6 separate regions of the Homo sapiens genome follow, and regions 1, 3, 4, 5 and 6 are each reported to be linked to region 2. The links are microRNA targets in miRTarBase. Many come from high-throughput screens and were not tested one by one. Region 2 holds a microRNA gene; each other region holds the end of a gene's coding sequence.
The links. Region 2 holds the annotated microRNA hsa-miR-410-3p (AAUAUAACACAGAUGGCCUGU, at 1,558-1,578, shown strand). A microRNA usually pairs through its seed, bases 2 to 8, with sites in the 3' UTR of a target mRNA and lowers its output. Matches are read on the target gene's strand: a 7mer-m8 pairs with bases 2 to 8, a 7mer-A1 pairs with bases 2 to 7 and ends in A, and an 8mer does both.

Region 1: the mRNA of DUSP8 is a reported target of hsa-miR-410-3p. Seed matches in the 3' UTR shown: 7mer-A1 at 462-468.
Region 3: the mRNA of HSPA14 is a reported target of hsa-miR-410-3p. The part of its 3' UTR that is shown has no 7-base or 8-base seed match.
Region 4: miRTarBase lists EIF2B1 as a target of hsa-miR-410-3p. Seed matches in the 3' UTR shown: 7mer-A1 at 1,774-1,780.
Region 5: miRTarBase lists GPR141 as a target of hsa-miR-410-3p. Seed matches in the 3' UTR shown: 7mer-A1 at 1,720-1,726, 7mer-A1 at 1,411-1,417 and 7mer-A1 at 582-588.
Region 6: the mRNA of EXOC8 is a reported target of hsa-miR-410-3p. Seed matches in the 3' UTR shown: 7mer-A1 at 2,413-2,419.

Annotation. Positions count from the first base shown.
Region 1 is chr11:1,553,790-1,556,923 of GRCh38, reverse strand. It overlaps DUSP8 (dual specificity phosphatase 8), which reads left to right. Exons shown (of 7, transcript NM_004420.3): 7 at 1-2,873. The coding sequence ends at 406. LOC124902608 reads left to right here and starts at 1,444. Exons shown (of 2, transcript XM_047427956.1): 1 at 1,444-1,975; 2 at 2,244-2,317. The coding sequence starts at 1,444. The coding sequence ends at 2,317. RefSeq lists an enhancer at 760-1,557.
Region 2 is chr14:101,064,404-101,067,537 of GRCh38, forward strand. It overlaps MIR410 (microRNA 410), which reads left to right and starts at 1,509; the gene lies at 1,509-1,588. MIR541 (microRNA 541) reads left to right here and starts at 92; the gene lies at 92-175. It overlaps MIR409 (microRNA 409), which reads left to right and starts at 897; the gene lies at 897-975. MIR412 (microRNA 412) reads left to right here and starts at 1,044; the gene lies at 1,044-1,134. It also overlaps MIR369 and MIR656.
Region 3 is chr10:14,871,454-14,874,579 of GRCh38, forward strand. HSPA14 (heat shock protein family A (Hsp70) member 14) reads left to right here. Exons shown (of 14, transcript NM_016299.4): 14 at 75-288. The coding sequence ends at 153. It also overlaps a transcript of SUV39H2-DT not described here. Among named protein-coding and RNA genes, the nearest start is that of SUV39H2-DT, 5.6 kb to the right of the region's middle.
Region 4 is chr12:123,619,316-123,622,402 of GRCh38, reverse strand. It overlaps EIF2B1 (eukaryotic translation initiation factor 2B subunit alpha), which reads left to right. Exons shown (of 9, transcript NM_001414.4): 9 at 483-1,997. The coding sequence ends at 647. It overlaps DDX55 (DEAD-box helicase 55), which reads right to left. Exons shown (of 14, transcript NM_020936.3): 13 at 2,679-2,971; 14 at 1,460-2,439. The coding sequence ends at 2,263. Among named protein-coding and RNA genes, the nearest start is that of SNORA9B, 4.1 kb to the right of the region's middle. RefSeq lists an enhancer at 1-1,026.
Region 5 is chr7:37,740,834-37,743,967 of GRCh38, reverse strand. It overlaps GPR141 (G protein-coupled receptor 141), which reads right to left. Exons shown (of 3, transcript NM_001381946.1): 3 at 133-3,134. The coding sequence ends at 2,657. Among named protein-coding and RNA genes, the nearest start is that of GPR141, 59 kb to the right of the region's middle.
Region 6 is chr1:231,333,107-231,336,106 of GRCh38, forward strand. EXOC8 (exocyst complex component 8) reads right to left here. Exons shown (of 1, transcript NM_175876.5): 1 at 1-3,000. The coding sequence ends at 2,462. Among named protein-coding and RNA genes, the nearest start is that of EXOC8, 3.2 kb to the right of the region's middle.

The DNA.
Region 1 (3,134 bases), not on the chromosome of region 2:
GTCGGCGCCCGGGCTGCCCGGCCCTGGCCAGCCGGCCGGCCCCGGGGCCTGGGCACCGCCGCTCGACTCCCCAGGCACGCCGTCGCCCGACGGGCCCTGGTGCTTCAGCCCCGAGGGCGCACAGGGGGCGGGCGGGGTGCTGTTTGCGCCCTTCGGCCGGGCGGGCGCCCCGGGACCAGGCGGCGGCAGCGACCTGCGGCGGCGGGAGGCAGCGAGGGCTGAGCCCCGGGACGCGCGGACCGGCTGGCCCGAGGAGCCGGCCCCGGAGACGCAGTTCAAGCGCCGCAGCTGCCAGATGGAGTTCGAGGAGGGCATGGTGGAGGGGCGCGCGCGCGGCGAGGAGCTGGCCGCCCTGGGCAAGCAGGCGAGCTTCTCGGGCAGCGTGGAGGTCATCGAGGTGTCCTGACCCCTCCGCTGCCCTCGGCCCCGCCGCCCGCAGCCAGGCCCGTTATAAATGTATATTATATATAATGCAAAGAAAGGTAAATGGTTTTACTGGGATTTTTATCGAGAAGTAAATATTTCGATTTTTTATTTATTTAAGCTGTTCATTCTGGCAATGATTTGGCAACAGTGCGGGTGGTCCTCGAGCTCTATTTTTACTGTCTGGTATTTAAACTGAAACATACGTTTCTAAGCAATACGAGGCCACCTTCAGTCGCAAGCTGGGTGCCAGGCCTGGGGCCCCTCCCAGTTCCCCCGCCCCAGGAAACACTGCTGACCTTTGCAAAGGCTGCCGAGCTTTCGTGCACTTTTTACATAACAAAAAGGTGAAAAAAAGGAAAAAAAAACTTCTTTGCCACAAACTGAGCCGCAGAACCCCCCTTCTCCCCCCACCCACCTCCCCTGCTCCCTCCCTTCTCTGCGCCGGCCTAGGGCTCTGCACCAAAGCCATAGGATGGAGGAGCAGGAGCTGGTGTGCCCCGGAGAGGTGCGGCCAGCCCTCCATCAGCTCCAGGCACCAAATCTTGGTGGCAAGGAGGGCACCCCGCTGCCCGTTGCCCCAGAGCTGTTCTCTGGCAGGGGAGGACAGGCATTGGGCTTCATGGTGCCAGGGTGTTCAGAGGGGCTGAGAAATAGAACAGTGTGTGTAGGGGCTTCGGGCAGGGGGTTCTGGAACGTCAGATGAGGTGCAGCCCAGGGGAGGACAGAGGTGTTAGTGCCCCCAACTCCTGCCAGAGCCCCAGTCCAGCCACAGAGTGGCTCAGAAAGGCCATTCCTAGAGGGCTGCGGCCCTCCCTTCTCCCTTGCCCATGCCCCCAGAGCTGCCTGCCGGGCAGGGTGGCACCATTGCAGGAGAGGAGCTTGGCCTCCGGGGGTCAGGCAGGAGGCGCCTGGCTAGCCAGTGCTGGCTCCACTGGGCAGGAAGCCCTGGACCCCCAGGTATGAGGAGGGGGTGGTCTTAGGGTTCTGTTCCAGGTCTGCCCCGCCCCCCTCCCAGCCATGCCCCAGGCAGAACTTGGAATTCAGGTGTGCACCTGCAGGCTGAGGGGCTCTGTGAGCAGGTGCTGCTCACACAGGGAGTTCAGGCGCCAGCCAAGCCCCTGTGCTGCTGGGATAGGCCTGCTTCACTTAGGGAGCACTGCCTCAAGACAGGTAAAGCCCCCTCGTTTGCCCCCACCCCCATGGGGCCGCTCAGGAGAGAAACTCCCATTCACCCCTTTCCCAGGGTGCTCTCTCTCTAGGTGGCATGCCAGCCCCCAAACACAAGTGGCTTTTGGGCCCAGGTGGGTCAGCCTGCTGCCCCTGCCCCATACCCCCTCGGGCCATTGGGACCCCTGCCCTTCAGATGTCCTAGGGTCTAGGAGTGGGGCCAGTCACTGTGGGAAGAGGCCAGGGGCTTGGCCGGAGAGGCAGCCCAGGGCAGGACCCAGTCCTGAGTCCTGGAGCAGGGCCAGGGAGGCGCCCATCCCGCCCCAGCCAGCCGCCCTCTCTGCTGTTTCTTCTATTTGTTCTTCTTTTCACCCACAGCTCTGTGTTCCTGTCATCCCTCCTTTCAGCAAAAGTCCTGTTCCCGTTCCCTCTGTCCCCACCCACTCCTGTTCCCCCAAGAAAATAAGCTATCGTTGTATTTGCAATCTATGGATTAGAGGTTTAAGTATTTATTATTATTGGTTAATTATTATTAATTATGTAAATTTGCCTCCCATATGTCTGTTGCGTTGGGTTTCTGAGGAGACCCTGGGTGAGGAGGATGCACTGGCTTCCCGCTTCTCGCCCCCCACCCCTGTGCTGTCCGGGAGACAGTGGTCTGGGGCCACTGGTTGGGCCCCCTTCTCCCTTCCCCCTTCCCCTTGTCCCTTCTGCAGGCCGTTGAGGGGGGCTGTCTGTCTCAGTCTGTCTCTGCTCCCACTCTTGAGGCACTGGTTACCGCAAAGTGAGCAGCCAGCAGGGGGGCGAAGGTCCTGTGTTGGCCACTGCCTCCTCCAGTGCTGCAGGAGGCGGGCTGAGGCCCCACCTGGTGGCTTTCACCTGACCCAGCCCTGAGTCCTCTCCAAGCCTCTCTCCGGCCCCTCCCACCTGGCCACTGCCTCCTCCAGTGCTGCGGGAGGCGGGCCAGGGCCCCACCTGGTGGCTTTCACCTGACCCAGCCCTGAGTCCTCTCCAAGCCTCTCTCCGGCCCCTCCCACCTGGCCACTGCCTGGCATTGGGATCGCCCCAAAATGGACCCGGCCCCTCCTGTTATTTGCTGGGAAGTCCAGCGGAGGAGAGGGTGCAGGTCCCCCGCTGAGCCTCCAGTCTCTGTAGACTGGGCTGCCGGCCCTTCAGCCCCCCTTGGAGCCCCTCCCGCCACAGCCGCACCTTCTGCTCCCGGCCCCTCCCTTTGTATTTGGAGACAATGTGTTGTAATAAAGCTTAAAGTGGATGTTTTCCCCACGACTCCGCGCCTCTTCCTTCAGACTGGTGGTGGGCAGGGTGGGGGCAGAGGCTGCTGGGAGGCAGGCCTGAGGCCAGAGCCTGGTGTGTTGGGTCTGGAAACTTGCCCCAGGCTCACACCGCGGGTGAGCTCTGAGAATAGTCCCTGGGGGCCAGGCATGGGCACAGGTCCTCAGCTGCACCTTTAGGGTGTAAAACACACTTTTTCAGTTGTTACAGGCTAGTAAAAGCTTAAATAACTTAAAACGATATAAAAC
Region 2 (3,134 bases):
GACATCTTTTCTTTCTTTACAGCAGGCCTCGCATGGCTGGCCTCTTGCTCCACTTGTAGCAAGGCGCAGAGGGCTCTCTGAGCTCATGCCAACGTCAGGGAAAGGATTCTGCTGTCGGTCCCACTCCAAAGTTCACAGAATGGGTGGTGGGCACAGAATCTGGACTCTGCTTGTGGCATCCATCGTCTGGCCCGATGCTTGCTGGCTGCCCGCTCCAGGAGGCACCTTCTGGGTGTTCTCTGAGTCTGGGGAAGGTTGGGTTCTGAGGTCAGGGCTGCCCTGACCCTTGTGAAGAGAAGACATCTGTGACTCACCTGCTTTCTTCTGCTGCATTTATCCCCCCAGTCCCTTATTTTGAATGTCTCACTTGCTTTATGAGGCTAATCAGATGGTCAGCCAGCTGTTGATAACTGTGAAGTTACTCTTTGAGGGATCCTGGGGTGATGCCTCTGTGGGCTGGAGATGGTGCTGGTGAGACCGCAGGTCTGGGGTCAGCGTTGTGCCCCGTTGAGCTCCCGCCAAAGGAATCCTCTGCTGGGAGGGAGGCTCTGTGCTTGTGCAGGGGTCCCTACAGGGTCACCCCCTCTCAGGGTCTGGGAATGAAAAGCGGGTGCGAGCAGGGTTTCATTTTCATCTTTAGCAAGGTGCCCAAGGAAGGTTGCCGTCTTTTCAGTATAAGATCCTACCTGGGTCTTGCACTCAACTTCTGGGAAGAGTCTCTAGATTCATTCTGGAAGGGGTTGGAATCGTTGGACTTGGTGATTGGGAACGTCCTTGGAGAGTGTGAGGCTCTGGGCTCTGAATGCCCAGACCTTGTGCTGCCCTTGGGGGAGGGTCTTCTGCAAGCACAGCCGCCTGCAAGCATTCACCTTAGTCCGAGCATCTGAGCCTCTCCATGGTACTCGGGGAGAGGTTACCCGAGCAACTTTGCATCTGGACGACGAATGTTGCTCGGTGAACCCCTTTTCGGTATCAAATTCCACCAGGGAGGCCGTCTTGGAGGCTGGGGCACCTCGGGGAAGGACGCCGGCATCAGCACCATTCTGGGGTACGGGGATGGATGGTCGACCAGTTGGAAAGTAATTGTTTCTAATGTACTTCACCTGGTCCACTAGCCGTCCGTATCCGCTGCAGCCTGTGGGGCCTGCGGGCCGGGGAGCCGATCGCGCTTCAGCTCAGCGCCTTTCCTGGTACTTGAAGGGAGATCGACCGTGTTATATTCGCTTTATTGACTTCGAATAATACATGGTTGATCTTTTCTCAGTATCAAATCTCACCTTGGAGGACCCGTTGGAGATGAAGCCCTTTTGAGGGTAGGAGCAGGACGGGTGCTTTGGAGTCGCTGCCTCAGTGGGGCCTGGTCACCGAGAGTGGGCCGGGCAGGGGTCTCTTTCCTGTCTCTGTGTCTTCTCACCTTTGATGTCCCATCCGTCCTCAGGACTGCTTCCCGGGGGCAGCGCTGGCACCACGGGACGCGGCAGCCACGTTCTTGAGCCGATGGCACTCTGGGTACCTGAGAAGAGGTTGTCTGTGATGAGTTCGCTTTTATTAATGACGAATATAACACAGATGGCCTGTTTTCAGTACCGCTACCGCCCGGTGGTGTGCGGGCGCCACGCCTGAGGCGGGACTTTCCAGGGTACGTGAATGCATGGGCTGGTGTGACATTTGTCATCCTTTCCCCTGACCCCCGCCATTGAATCATTTTGGGAGAGCTTTCGGGGGGCCATGTGGACTTTGGGGAAGATGCTAGGGTTGTGCACTGTGGTGGGGGGCGGTCATGAAGCTGATGAGCAATGGTGACGGGGCTCAGTCTGTTTTTCATGGCCAGTGTCATCGAGGCAGAGGACACGGGGGAGCTAGTCCCGCTGGAAGGCATCCTGCTGGAAGGCCACCCACCCCTCGCCAGGATGTTGGGGGCGGCTGCATGCATTCCCTGCACCTGGGCTGCCTTCTGCTCATCTCAGTGCTGTGAGACCCTGGGTGGGAGCTGGTGCCTTGGGTGGCCGTGTGCGTGTGCTGCTCCTTGTGGTGCCTGAGGAGAGGTGGCCTGTGTTGCATTCACAGAAATCATGACACACAAGACACGAGCGGCCTCTCTTCAGTATCAGATCCCACCTGCATGATTCCTGCACCTGCTGATGTCGGGGAGGTCCGGTTGCGCGCCCTGTGGGCCCCCAGAGGCATGGCTGGTGGCCGAGCACGCGCTTGACTTCCACCTGCAGCCCTGTGCTGGCCTCCATCCTGGAGGCGGGTGGGTGGCAGGGCCCTTCCCTGTGGAAGAAGCCTCCTCCCTGGAGTCAGTGCTGCTCAGTGGTACCTGAAATAGGTTGCCTGTGAGGTGTTCACTTTCTATATGATGAATATTATACAGTCAACCTCTTTCCGATATCGAATCCCACCTTGGATGCCTTCCTCTTTGCTGTCAACTCCAGGCAGCAGCTGGCTCTGCGCTGGTTGACCCTGTGGACTTTGTGTAGGACCTGTGTCACTTGGCCTGTTAATTTTCCAGCTCCACTCTGTTCTGGGGGGCTTTGGAAGTGTGACAGAATGGCATCCCCAATTCCAGTGTCAGCGGGAGCACCCGCCATGCCCTTGCTTCCGGTTGGCACATCCCCCAGGCTGGGCTGGCTCTCAGCTACCCGATGCTTATGTCATATTTGCACCCCTGGCCTGCCCAGACTACAGGAAGATGACCAGAGGCCTGTTTGCAGCTGACCTGGAGACTTAGTGACTCCAGAACATGCTGCCCATGCCCAGGGTCCAGGGCTGAAGGCAAGGAGCACCTCAGGAGTGACCCCAAAGAATGAGCTAAGGCTGTCCTTTATCACTCATTGTTGATCAGTGAGCTCCTGGGCTCGGGAGATCTTCCTGAGCTGGGCTCCCGTCATCCCCTAGTTGAGACGTCGCTGCCTTGGAAGTCACAGCCTGTGCCTGCCCTCCCCCTTGTCCTCCTCCTCGGGACCGCTCCTCTCCATGCCTAGCATGGGAGTGGGGATCCCTGGCACCATCCCTCTGGGCTGCCTGCTCCCACTCTCCCTCAGCACCCCTCTTCCCCAGCCCCTGGGCCACAGCCCTGCTGGAGAGGCCGCCCCACAGGCTAGGTCCCTCCAGCCTGTGGCACTTGGGTCTCC
Region 3 (3,126 bases), not on the chromosome of region 2:
AAGTAACTTGTTACAGACTTTATGTTTTTATAAAATGAGCTTGTGCAATGTTCTTTATTTTTTTGTCTGTTTAGGGATGGATCTTTACATGTGACATGCACAGATCAAGAAACTGGAAAATGTGAAGCAATCTCTATTGAGATAGCATCTTAGTGTTTTAGAGAAATCAAGAATTTTTAAAAACAAGAATATCAACATTTGGTTTTGTGTATAAGTGGTGTTTGTATTAAAATACTTTTTCAATGAACTGTATAAACTATGTTTTATTAAACTACAATATATCAGTAAGTGTTGCAACCCTTTGTTTTTGACGTACAGTAACCTCTTATTACTGGGAAATATAAGGAAGTTTTTTTTTTTTTTTATCATGAAGCTGTTTAGAATTAAACTGAGTTGGTTAAAGAATTTTCTATAACATTTAATTTGTAAAAGTCTTCTATTGATTCTTGTTAGATAACCAAGAGAACAATTAAAAGTCATTGACATTAATTGAAAAAAATTTCAGGACCACATAGAAAGTAAGATGCCTTTTTTTGTTGGTTTTTGTTTTTAGAGACAGGATTTTGCACTGCCACCGAGGCTCAAGTGCAGTGGTGGGATCATATCTCACAGCAGCCTCGAACTGCTGGGCTCAAGCAGTCTTCCTGCCTTAGCCTCCCTTGTAGCCGGGACTACAGATGTGCACCATCACACCTGGCAATTTTTTTTTTTTTTTTTTTTTTTTTGGAGAGACGGGTCTTGCTATGTTGCCCAGGATGGTCCCAAACTGCTGGTCTCAAGCAGTCCTCCCGCCTTAGCCCCACAAAGTGCTGGGATTACAGGCATAAGCGACAGCCATTTTTTAAGTAAACTGATAAACTCAACAACTAGGAGAGGGGCTTTTACTTTTTACAGTTTTGTTTAGTTTATTTCTTCCAACAAACATGTTTTTCTTTTGAAATTAAAAGATCTCTTTAGGGCTGGGCACGGTGGCTTACACCTGTAATTCCAGCACTTTGGGAGGCAGAGATGGGAGGATCACTTGAGGCTAGGAGTTCCAGACCAGCCTGGCCAACGTGGTGAAACCCCATCTCTACTAAAAATACAAAAAATTAGTTGGGCGTGGTGGTGTGCGCCTGTAGTCTTAGCAACTCCTGAGACTGAATCCCTTGATCCCAGGAGGCAGAGGTTGCAGTGAGCCGAGATCACGCCACTGCACTGCAGCCTGGGTGACAGAGTGATACTCCATCTCAAAAAAAGAAAAAAAAAATCTCTTTAGTTTGAAGAGAAGGCTAGCCACATTCTGTTTACCAGAGAATATTCACTAGAGCCCTGAGATCCTCAGTGGGTTCCAGTGAAAACTTATTCATGTTGGCTGCTATGGAGTTAGTTGGTAGTACCCTTCTAAAAGTTTTTAAAGATCCAGAAACCAAACTTAAATTTTTTCATCATTATTTTGCATCAAATTATTGACAGAACCATGAAGAGAATTCAGATATGATTTTAAGTCCACAGAGTCTTTAAATACAGAAGCAGCTTTAAAGGTGTACTCTTTGTCCTAAGTTATTAGTTATTTCTTAGGATCTTTTTCCAAAGTCATAGAAAATTTGAAATAAAAGTGATTTTGGTATAAGCAATTCAGTGGCTTCAGAACACAGGAAAACACCAACTGAACTAGTTCTACTGCTAGGTCTACATGCTTTCAATTATGCTTTGAAAAACTTTTAGGATTTTATTTTGTGGTTATTGTTAGCTTTTAAAATAGATCTGGGGTGCCAAACTATGGCCAGTGAGTCAGATCTATCTCACCCCTGTTTTCATAGATAAAATTTTATTAGAACACAGTCACACTCTAATTGTATATGGGCTGGCTGTGGCGGTTTTCACATTAGAGTGGCAGAGATGAATAGTTGCACAAAGGCTGTGTGGCCCACAAAGCTTAAAATATTTACTGTCTGGCCTTCTACATAAAAAATTTGACACCTAAAGTACATTATTGAAACTTATAGAATAAAATAACTTCTTCTAAAGTTTTCTGCTATATTTATGTAATGCTTTACTTATTGGCTCCTTTCCCCACTAGATTATTAAGCATTGTGAGAGCAGATACTCTCAGTCTTAGTCACCATTTTGCCTCAGCCCCTACAACAGTACGTGAGCATAGTGGGTGTTCCTAAGTGCTTATCAAATAAATGAATTATGTGGAAGAAAAAATAATGTCATGTTTGTATGCTACAGGACAATGGCCAGTGAGTAGTACATCTGTTGTATATTTTATGGTTTGTTTAGAAACATAAGGAAGGAAAGGAATAGCACTGCTGACTTTATTGGTCAGCTTTGCATGTTTGTTTGGTTGTTTTCCCCTAGACTTATCAAATTTGAAATTGTCATCAATAAGTCCTCTACTGCCTAATGAAATTCTTCCACATTTTTTCGTACCCTCAGGTGATAAGTTTTTTCCTTGTGAATTTTTGAAAGATTTGCTGACAAAATTTTCTAGTGTTTTTTTATTTTTCAAGGTGAAAATAGCTTTAAATTTTTTGTTTGTAAGAATGATACATAGTCAATATAAAATTCAAATTCCAAAAGAAAAAAATATAAAACATTCTTTATTCTACCATCCAGAATAGTAACTATAAAGATTTTTGGTGAGTACCTTGATAATCTTTTCATGTACATCCTAGTTATCTTTGTTATATGTATGTCGTAGCAAAGATAATTGGGATGTACATGAGATACATGCAATTTATACTCATGAAATGTAAATATATTTCATGAAGTTTAAATATGTATATATTTAAATGTGGGGAAAGTAGTCAAGTAAGTGAAGTATTACATAAATATGGAAGAAAAGTTTTGAAGAAGTCATTTTATTGTGGAAGTTTCAATAATCTACCTCGGGTCAAGTTTTTTATATAAAAGGCCAGATAGTAAATATATACATATTTAAACTTAAACACTTTTACCACTAAAAGCTTATGTCAAATTATAGTTTTGCCTATTTACATCTGACATTGTCTGAAGAACAGAGCCAAATATAAAAATAGGAAGAAATACCTATGATGTGAAAGTCTTGGAACGTGTCTTAGTTTGGACTGCTATAATAAAGTACCATAGTCTGGGGGGTGGCTTGTAAACATCAGAAAT
Region 4 (3,087 bases), not on the chromosome of region 2:
TAAGTCCCAGCTTTGGGCTTAACTGAGCTCAGCTCCCATCACCACAACTTACAAACTGTGCGAGTTGAGGCAAGTCCTTTCATTTCAACCTCTGAACCGGTTTTCTTGTCTGTAAAATGGCATAGCAGTATCTGACAGGGTCATGAGGATTCTAAGATAATCTTAGCACAGTCCCTGGCACGCTGCAAGCTCTCTATTGTGACTCTCGATCTTCCCTTGAGAGGTCTGGAGAAGTTAATCCGGCATGAGAATGAGGGGACATGGGATTTAAGTTTGTTACACTACAGCTCTCAGCCAGCACACTGCCATGATCTGGCTCATGGCCACAACTCTGCCCTCGTCTCTAGTGTCCTGCATAGCTTAGTTTCTCCCATTTTCAGAGAGCAGTCTCAGGAAGTAGCACACTGATCACTCACACCAAGGCCCTACCAGGTCAGAGCACTAAATATTCAGTGCCGACTAATGTGTACTTCTCTCCTCAGTATAAGGCAGACACTCTCAAGGTCGCGCAGACTGGACAAGACCTCAAAGAGGAGCATCCGTGGGTCGACTACACTGCCCCTTCCTTAATCACTCTGCTGTTTACAGACCTGGGCGTGCTGACACCCTCAGCAGTCAGCGATGAGCTCATCAAGCTCTATCTGTAACCTGTGAGCCCTTTCCTGCCAAGGTGCAGCTTACGTAGTTGAGGCAGGGTGAGTAGCTGCTTGACACCCCAGTGAGTCAGGCCAAAACTGAGATGTGTTTAATGAAGATTTATGGAGTAAGGACTTAAAATCATACATCTTGGAGAACCTTTCTTACTCATTTCAGTCCCATCTAAAAATGTGTCAGCTATTCTAAATCCCAACTTAAATTGTTCTTACGGTTTCTAGAAACTTTCCTTTTCAGTTTCCAGAAATACAAGTTAGATAATTGGCTACTTAACTGATGAAAGATGAGCCCAAGTCCACCTGTCTTCATCCTCCCCTGCACTCCAGACTGATCTGCCTAAAGCACGCGAGATGCAGGCGAAAAGCAGCCACACCCCTCTGCCACAAATGACCAACAGCTGGTCAGGACGTTACACGCGGTGCCTTGTAAGAGGCAAGAAACACTTGCTGAATCTGCATCTGGCTTCCAGTGGTAAGCACATTCCTCAGCAGGATCAAGCCAAACAGTAAAAACTACCAAGAGAACACGAGGAAGGCAGAAACGATGTTTAGCAACAGTATTCTGCATGGTTCACTGCTTAAGAAAATGCCTTCTGGAATATTTGTAAACTGAAATTCTGTATGTGTAAGAGATGTTTAAATATGTTTGGGTCCTAAACAGCTTTTTAAAATTATACTTGGGAATAAATTCAGCATCTTTTCAAATAAACTCTATGAAAGACGCTGATGTGGTGTTGCATCAATACTGCAAGCTGACCAGGCCATCTAGGGGAAAACACTGTCCAGCTACATTTACACACTTAAGACCCAGGCAATCAGGACACCATTTATTCAACAGGAGGCATAAAAACTATAATTCTCTTTCCCGGAATATGACTTAATCCCTCTGTTTTTCAGCTATTCACCAATAAAACAATACTGTGACTATTAACACAGAAAAACCCCAGCACATTAGCCACCCCTGCAGGACATCAAAGGATAACTGAAGCCCAGGGCCAAGCACATTCAGGAGGTCAAATGCCTGAAGATACTGAGGAATGGTTTTGAAAATCAGAAGTCAAGAAGACTTCTGTATCTTTATGTTTAAAAATAACTATAAAATAGCCTCAGAAAAAAGAGCTTATATATATATATATATATATATATATATATATATATATATATATATAATATGTACATATGTCTATATGTGACCCATCATGATAAATACTGACATCTATTATTTACACTCAAATAATTTTACATTTTCTTCTGTTAGACTACTCCAAGACTGGAATTGTTTTGTTTTGTTGTTTTTAATGAGAGGGTCTCGCTGTGTTCCCAGGCTGGTCTTGAACTCCTGGGCTCAAGTGATCCTCCTGCCTCAGCCTCCCAAAGTGCTGGGATTATAGGCAGGAGCCACCGCACCCGGCCAAGACTGGAATGTTTTTAGTAAAATATTCTGAAGTGTGAAATCCTTCATTTCTCCCTCATCTGAAAGGACAGCTTTCAGAGACATCATTCTTTTCAGATGTCTCCTGAAGTTGTGATTTTCGTTAAAAGCAAACTGGAGCCATCCACCAAGTTAGGGAACAGCTATGTCCTTGTGGGTTCATCTGTGGCACTGGAATCAGCAGTCATCTTCCAAATCTGAGATCCCTAAATCCACTGTCTTGATTGTTCTTTTGCCAGTTGTCAACAAGCCCTTCTCAAATTCTTCTTCAGTTATTTTGCCTTTCTTAAGTTTTTTCAAGAGTCTTGTGTCATTAAGAAGTTCTTCCATGTCCTCATCTTCAATATCAGAACCCTAAGTGCAGAAGAAACCAATAAACTACTAAATTTTTCAGCAATAGTGTTGTAGTGAAACCAGCAGTTTTAACTCAAGAACTATAAGCTCTCAGATTGGCTTCTGCAAATAGAGCAAATTCCCCACCCTGGTCGCCAACGTAACAGAAATCTGACAGCCCCACACAATTCCTATTTAAAGAACTACTACAATAAATTTGTTCAAGATTCTAAGTTAATGTAAGTAAAAGTAAACTTTACCTCTTCCCTTTTCCTTTTCTCATTCATTTTTTTCTTCTTTTCTTTTTTGGCCTTCTGCTTTGACCAAGCTTTATTTTTTATGAATTTTCTTCTCCCTTCATTTTCTGTTTTCTCTCTTCTTTGTTGCTCCAGGAGTTTCTGCCTCTGCTTTTCTCTGATTTTATCTTTAAATGGAATCGTGTCGGTATTAACGTCCACGGGCACAAAATCTGGAAACTGCTTTCCTCTCAATTCTGGCATCTTGGGCATCCTCAGCAGGGCAAAACCTCGAGCAAGGCTGGCAAAATCAAGATCTGATTCAATCAGAAGATCAGAGTTAGCGCACTCAACAGGATTAGAACAATCAGTAATGGCTTACAATATAATTTTTTTCTAACCAAAGGGTTTAATGCATTCATTTTAGTTAGAA
Region 5 (3,134 bases), not on the chromosome of region 2:
CCCACCACCAAATGCTAATACTAGTGCTCTCTTATAATGGTGATATCCAAAAATGGCCCTAGAGGCCAATGTCACTCCCAATGTCACATGAGGTTCATTTCTGTATTGATTCAAGACAAAGAACAGGAAAACTAAAATTTTTCTATTTATTCCATAAATACTGATGAAAAAGATATTTTATATTATGAAATATTGCATTTCTATCTTTTGAGAACATTTCTAATAAGCCTGTTATTATAATATATGAAAATAACATAGTGTTATGTTAACATTATAACAGATTAATACAGAGATTAATTCTTTTGAATTGCCTGACCTCAACATATCTAAAATCTGGAAAAGAGTATGACATAATCTACAAGGTAATGAAATTCTCATGAATACTTTTAATTTAAATATTTTTCTAAATTTTTTTTACATATTTATAGGTATTATAAATTTTCTTAAAACTATCAGGGGTCTTAGTAACGGTCTTACAAATTTTATGGTTCAAAATGAGAAAGAAAAAATGTAAAAAATAAATGGGAAAAAAGGCAAGAAAGAAAAGAAATATTACTTGTTTAAAAGGATATTTAAAAGAATATATAAAACAGAAAATATATGGAAACAAGTCATGTTTGAACTATGTTGCTACTTCTGCTTCCTCAGAATTAATTTCTGTGGCTCAGTAATTTTAGTGGTCACAGAAATTCACAGAGGTATTTCTTATTCATCTGAGGAATTTGTGGATCCACAGTGATAATAAATTATGAAAAACTTTTAAATCCCGAAGATATACCTTGATGAAAAAAAAAGTTCCCTTAATTCATTCTGTTATTCTATTCATGTTACTAATCACTTCAGGTTTTCTGCAGCATTAAATATGAAACTGGATCAGATCCTGGGAAAATTTTAAGATAAAACACTGAAGACACTGGAAGTATGGGCAGGAGCAAAAAAAACCCAAAAAGCAAAAACCCACAAGCCTATGTATCAACCTAGCCAGTAACAGAAGTTCTTGAAATAAAATCAGTTTAACGTGCCACATGCCACAAGTTATTAATACAATTTTACAAAAAGTAATTCCGAATTTGGAAAGAAAATCCATATTATTTTATTATTATTACTTTAAATTTTATTTTAAGTTCAGGGGTACATGTGCAGGTTTGTTACATAGGTAAACATGTGTCATGGGAGTTTGTTGTACAGATTATTTCATCCCGAGTATTAAGCCTAGTTCCCATTAGTTATTTTTCCTATATTTTAAAGGATTATGATTTTATTGCTTTGGGGGACATTTATTTATCCACTCTTCAAATATTCAGAAAACCTTCTTCATGCAACCTAATCTCACAGAGTCTAAATTAATGGTTTTTCTATATACTTCTCAAAAGTCCTCTTTTAAAAACACAGTTTTCATTTATTTAAAAATATATAATTTTAACCTGGAAACCATCATTCTCAGCAAACTAACACAGGAACAGAAAACCAAACACCGCATGTTCTCACTTAGAAGTGGGAGTTGAACAATGAAAACACATGGACACAGGGAGGGGAACATCACACAATGGGGCCTGTCCAGGGGTGGGGGGCTAGGGGAGGGAGAGCATTAGGAGAAATACCTAATGTAGATGGGTTGACAGGTGCCGCAAACCACCATGGCACGTGTATACCTATGTAACAAACCTGCACATTCTGCACATGTACCCCAGAACTTAAGGTATAATTTAAATATATATATATATAATTTTAACGGCGGAAGGGAGCTCTAAAGATTTCAGTATAACTTTCTGTCCCCCCTAAAAATCTTAATTAACTGTGGCCCAGGACATCTAGAAATTCTCTCAAAAAACAGAAGAGAAAAAAATTTTAATCACTTCCCTTGGGAACTCATTTTAATGCCTACCAGCACATTAGTCAGGGATAGTCTCTAAATTACAGTTTCACCATTATGTAGATATGTCCAGTAAGCTTTTAAATGATTTTTGGAGCAACAGTGCAATTGGTGATAATTGAGGAAGTTGATCCCCAAGTCCTTAAACGACCTTTCACAGGACAAATCTAGAAACCCTTGTTATAACAGGAGGCCACACGTTCTTTTTCTCTTGATTTCTAGACAGATGACTTCCTACCAGAGTTATGATACCCTAGAAAAATTTTTAACTATTCTCTCCCCTTATCAGTTTTTATCAGGGCATGAGATGAATGGGACATCTAACCTGGTTAGCGAAGGAGAGTTTGTGTCTTTGGAGCTGGGTGGTGGCCAGAATTTACTTACCTAAGGTGAAGTGGGATGAAAAGAACTAAAGGTCTGAGTTCAGTCCAAAACCTAAGAGACCATGCTTCAAACAGAGGAACTTAGAATGAGCTAATGAAACTCTAAAACTCTTAAAACCTATGTTGCTTTCATGGGCCACACAGACATTCTGTACTGGAAAATAATGTAATATTGCAACTCCAGGTGGATTCAACAACACTGGTCTTTGTACGGCCATCACTCAGAGATGGGAGGGATCCCATAAGGACTACAATGAGGGCTCTTGCATTTTATAGTCCTTTTGTTTTGGGTACATCAAGGCATGGTTTTGATCAAGTAATGAAATACCATTCTTACCTCCCCTATACCCATTTTTATTCCCAATATAAAGGAAGCAAATATGAATACTGTAGTTTGTGGCTAACGGCACAAAACACAATTCCATAAGCCAATTATCTTTTGCTTAAACCAATGGCTTCCCCCAAAGACAAAGAGAAGCAAATCATAGCAGCTAATTGCTGTTACACTCAAGAAGATTTCGTTATAAAATGCAACCTTGCTGTTACAGGCATTGGAATGCGTCACAACATTCAAGTAATAGATCCTAAAGAACTGGTAGGGAAGGAAACAAACAAGGATGACCCCTATAAAAAATAGGTTTTTCAGCTGAGCCCAGAACTCCTGGTGGGATAGTAAAGAGTGGCGTAGCTTCTGCACCATCAACATAATGATGAAGACCTGGAAGACCAACAGAATCACAGCAACGGCTATGACAAAAATGACTATCATATAGTTGATGATTTTCACATATGTGTAAGCAAGCTCTTTGTGAAATTTAAAACAGTGCTCCTCATTGTATTCCTCATGGATTCCATACCGGGAGACAACCAGGGGTACC
Region 6 (3,000 bases), not on the chromosome of region 2:
GCAATCAATGCTTAAGTGGTATATTTTAGTATATATTACATTTCTGGACAATCTCTCATTGCATTCAATTTTTAGAACTTGTCTTGGGTCTAATAAAACAGAAGAATTAGAGAAGAAAGCCCATGCCACTTTGAGGAATGTAACATAATTGTTTTGTCTGGGTACAAAGGTACGTTACAACACTGGGGGTCTTTAGTCAAGTTCCCATACTAATTGACTCACCAAAGCATACTTCCTTCAGCTACAACTGTAATTGGAACACACAGATTTTACCTGAAGAAAATCCTGTACTTCCAGTTTTAAAAAGCAGACAATTCTATGAAGAAGCAACCATTTAAATATCTAACTATACACATTCAAGTTTTTACAACTTCATGCCTTATGAGGAATTTTGATTTCAGAAGTATCATTCCACAGACTCAGCATCATATATTTATACATATTTCATACAGTATAGTATTAGAAACTGTAAATGGCACAGAATAATCATAATTATCACAAAATTTTATCAATTTCCAGTGATCTTAAAAAGACAAATTATAACCGCCTTTGCTCAGCTAAGATATCCAGTTATGGTTACAACTTTCGAAAATCCTAAAGTTATGTGAAAAAAATTAGTCAAAGAAAATCTGTAAATCTGATACTTTCCAATATTTTAAATATGCACAGCTAAAGAGAAAATAAAGGGGTTGATCTGGCACATGAATAATTAAGTCAATGAATTTTACAACCCTGAGCCACTTTGGCAACTACTTTAGGTTTCACATAATTTTCACAGTCTTAGTACCACCATTTTCATTCAGATAAAAGAAATGACCTTTTGAAATCATGGGCATCAAATTTGGTGCTTATGGACAAGAATCACAACTAGAAGCTAGAGACAAAATGGATCACAGCAAGCACAGTTTCCCTCAAAGAATAAGGAACGCTATAGAATATACAACAGCGATAGTTTAGAAACCTTGGGAAGCTCACATTTCTTTAGTTATTTTGTTTTACTAAACAATTTGAAGTAAGCATTATATTCATGTTTAAAAACAAAGCAAGGAAAAATAAAAAATGAAACAAAAATGCAGCATGGAACATTTTAGGAGTCACAGAAGGTTCTCTTCTTCCCTTTGTTTTGGGCACATTGTCTCACCTGTTTTCACTTTGTTACAAAAGGAAACAAAACCAAATCTCTGCTCAGAGTGGTCATAGTGAGAACACTGAGATTTGCATATGTTTTTCTACTTTCCCATCCATCTAGACCCTGAAATCTAAATAAATATTTCAGTTAAAACTTTTTTTCCATTTGCATGAAGTCTGGGTCACTATATCTCCTACCCTGAATGGGGGAAGATGGGACAGCTATATCTCATACTGAAGCGGTGGCAGCTAAAACCTGGCAACTGCTGCCAGTGTCCCCAATGTGTCTTGCTTATTATTTTTTAAAATGTGACAAAGACAAAAGCTACAGCTGGAAACTCACACAATTTAGAAATATGTTGAAAACTTTTATTATAGTCCTTAGGATTTCCAAGTAAATGCTCCCAAATCAAGTATTACAAAGCTGCTAATTAATTAGCAACTGAAAATTAGCCATTCAAATTATATTGGAAATATTTGCTGAATTGTTTTTATGAAAGCTTCCTCTTGGATTCTGTAAGGATCAGAGTATCTGAATCCACAAACCAGCTAGTTTCAAGAAAGAATTCTTTTGACTAAAACTTACCTTAAAACCAATTTTCCCAACTCTTTTCCTTTTCCCAAATAGTCCAACGTTTTGAGGAGAAATATATGAGGCAGGTTGTTTTATACGGCACTGTACCCTTTAGGAAACCTAACATTTCAGTGAACTGGGAAACTTCACAACATAAACTCTATGTATTTATAGATATTATGACTGCTGTATAATATATACTGTGGGGAAAAAAAAAAAGAAGAAAGAAAAGACTAGCCTGGGCAACATGGCGAAACCCCATCTCTACAAAAAATACAAAAATTAGCTGGGTATGGTGGTGCCTGCCTGTGGTTCCTGCTACATGGGAGGCTGAGGTGGGAGGACTACCTGGGCCCGGGAGGTCAAGGCTGCAGTGAGTCGAGACTTTGCCACTGCACTCCAGCCTGTGCGACGGGGTGAGACCCTGTCTCAAAAAAAAAAAAGAAAAAAGAAAAGTTTTATCAAAGGATAAAACCGAAATGCTATAGTATATAGTGTGACCATAATTTCAGAAGAAGAGAATTAGCATAATTTAAAAGGATAGCTAGCATACTATACGTTTTAATAATTCCAGTATTTTTGTTACTTGGGCTTAATTTAACTTATTTTCCTCTTTTTGATTTTTGTATTTTTAAGAGGGCACTTTTAATTTTCAAGTTGTGTTTGAAACTATAGAGTATGCTAATACAACTTAATATAAATATAAATAATATATAAGCTCTCTCTCTGCATATATACACATATAAACAGACCCAAGCATTAGACCACTGATGTTGTACTTTCAGGATTCACACGAATAAGTCTAGATGCATTCCTCAGATCTTGGAGTTGCTTGGCAGGTTTCCCCACACCTTCTTCAAACCTTTTCTCCACCACAGGGAGGACTGTTTCATATAAAAAGGATGCATTCTGTCTGATAAAAGCTTTCTTCTCTGGATCCTGCTCACATCGAAGACTATAATCCACATGCTGAACAGCAACCAAAATGATTTCCACCAGGCTCTCCAAAAGTACCATGTGCAGCTCTGGGAAATACAGCTTCAGGGCCTCTTCCAAGAAGCCCATGGTCTGTTTGGTGAAAGCAACCACTGTGTAACTTAGGTTCACCCAGCAGTCATCCCCTGTGTACTGCTCAAAGTTACTTACCCCACAACTTTTCATCTCTTCTTTGAGCTTACCCAGGGCTTCTGGCGTCATCAAGTTCATCCTCCTCCACATCTCTTCAGAGTTGCGATGTTTAGTGGCTTCAATGATGATTTCTTTGTAACTGTGCAAGGCCCCTTGGATGTCTTTCACCA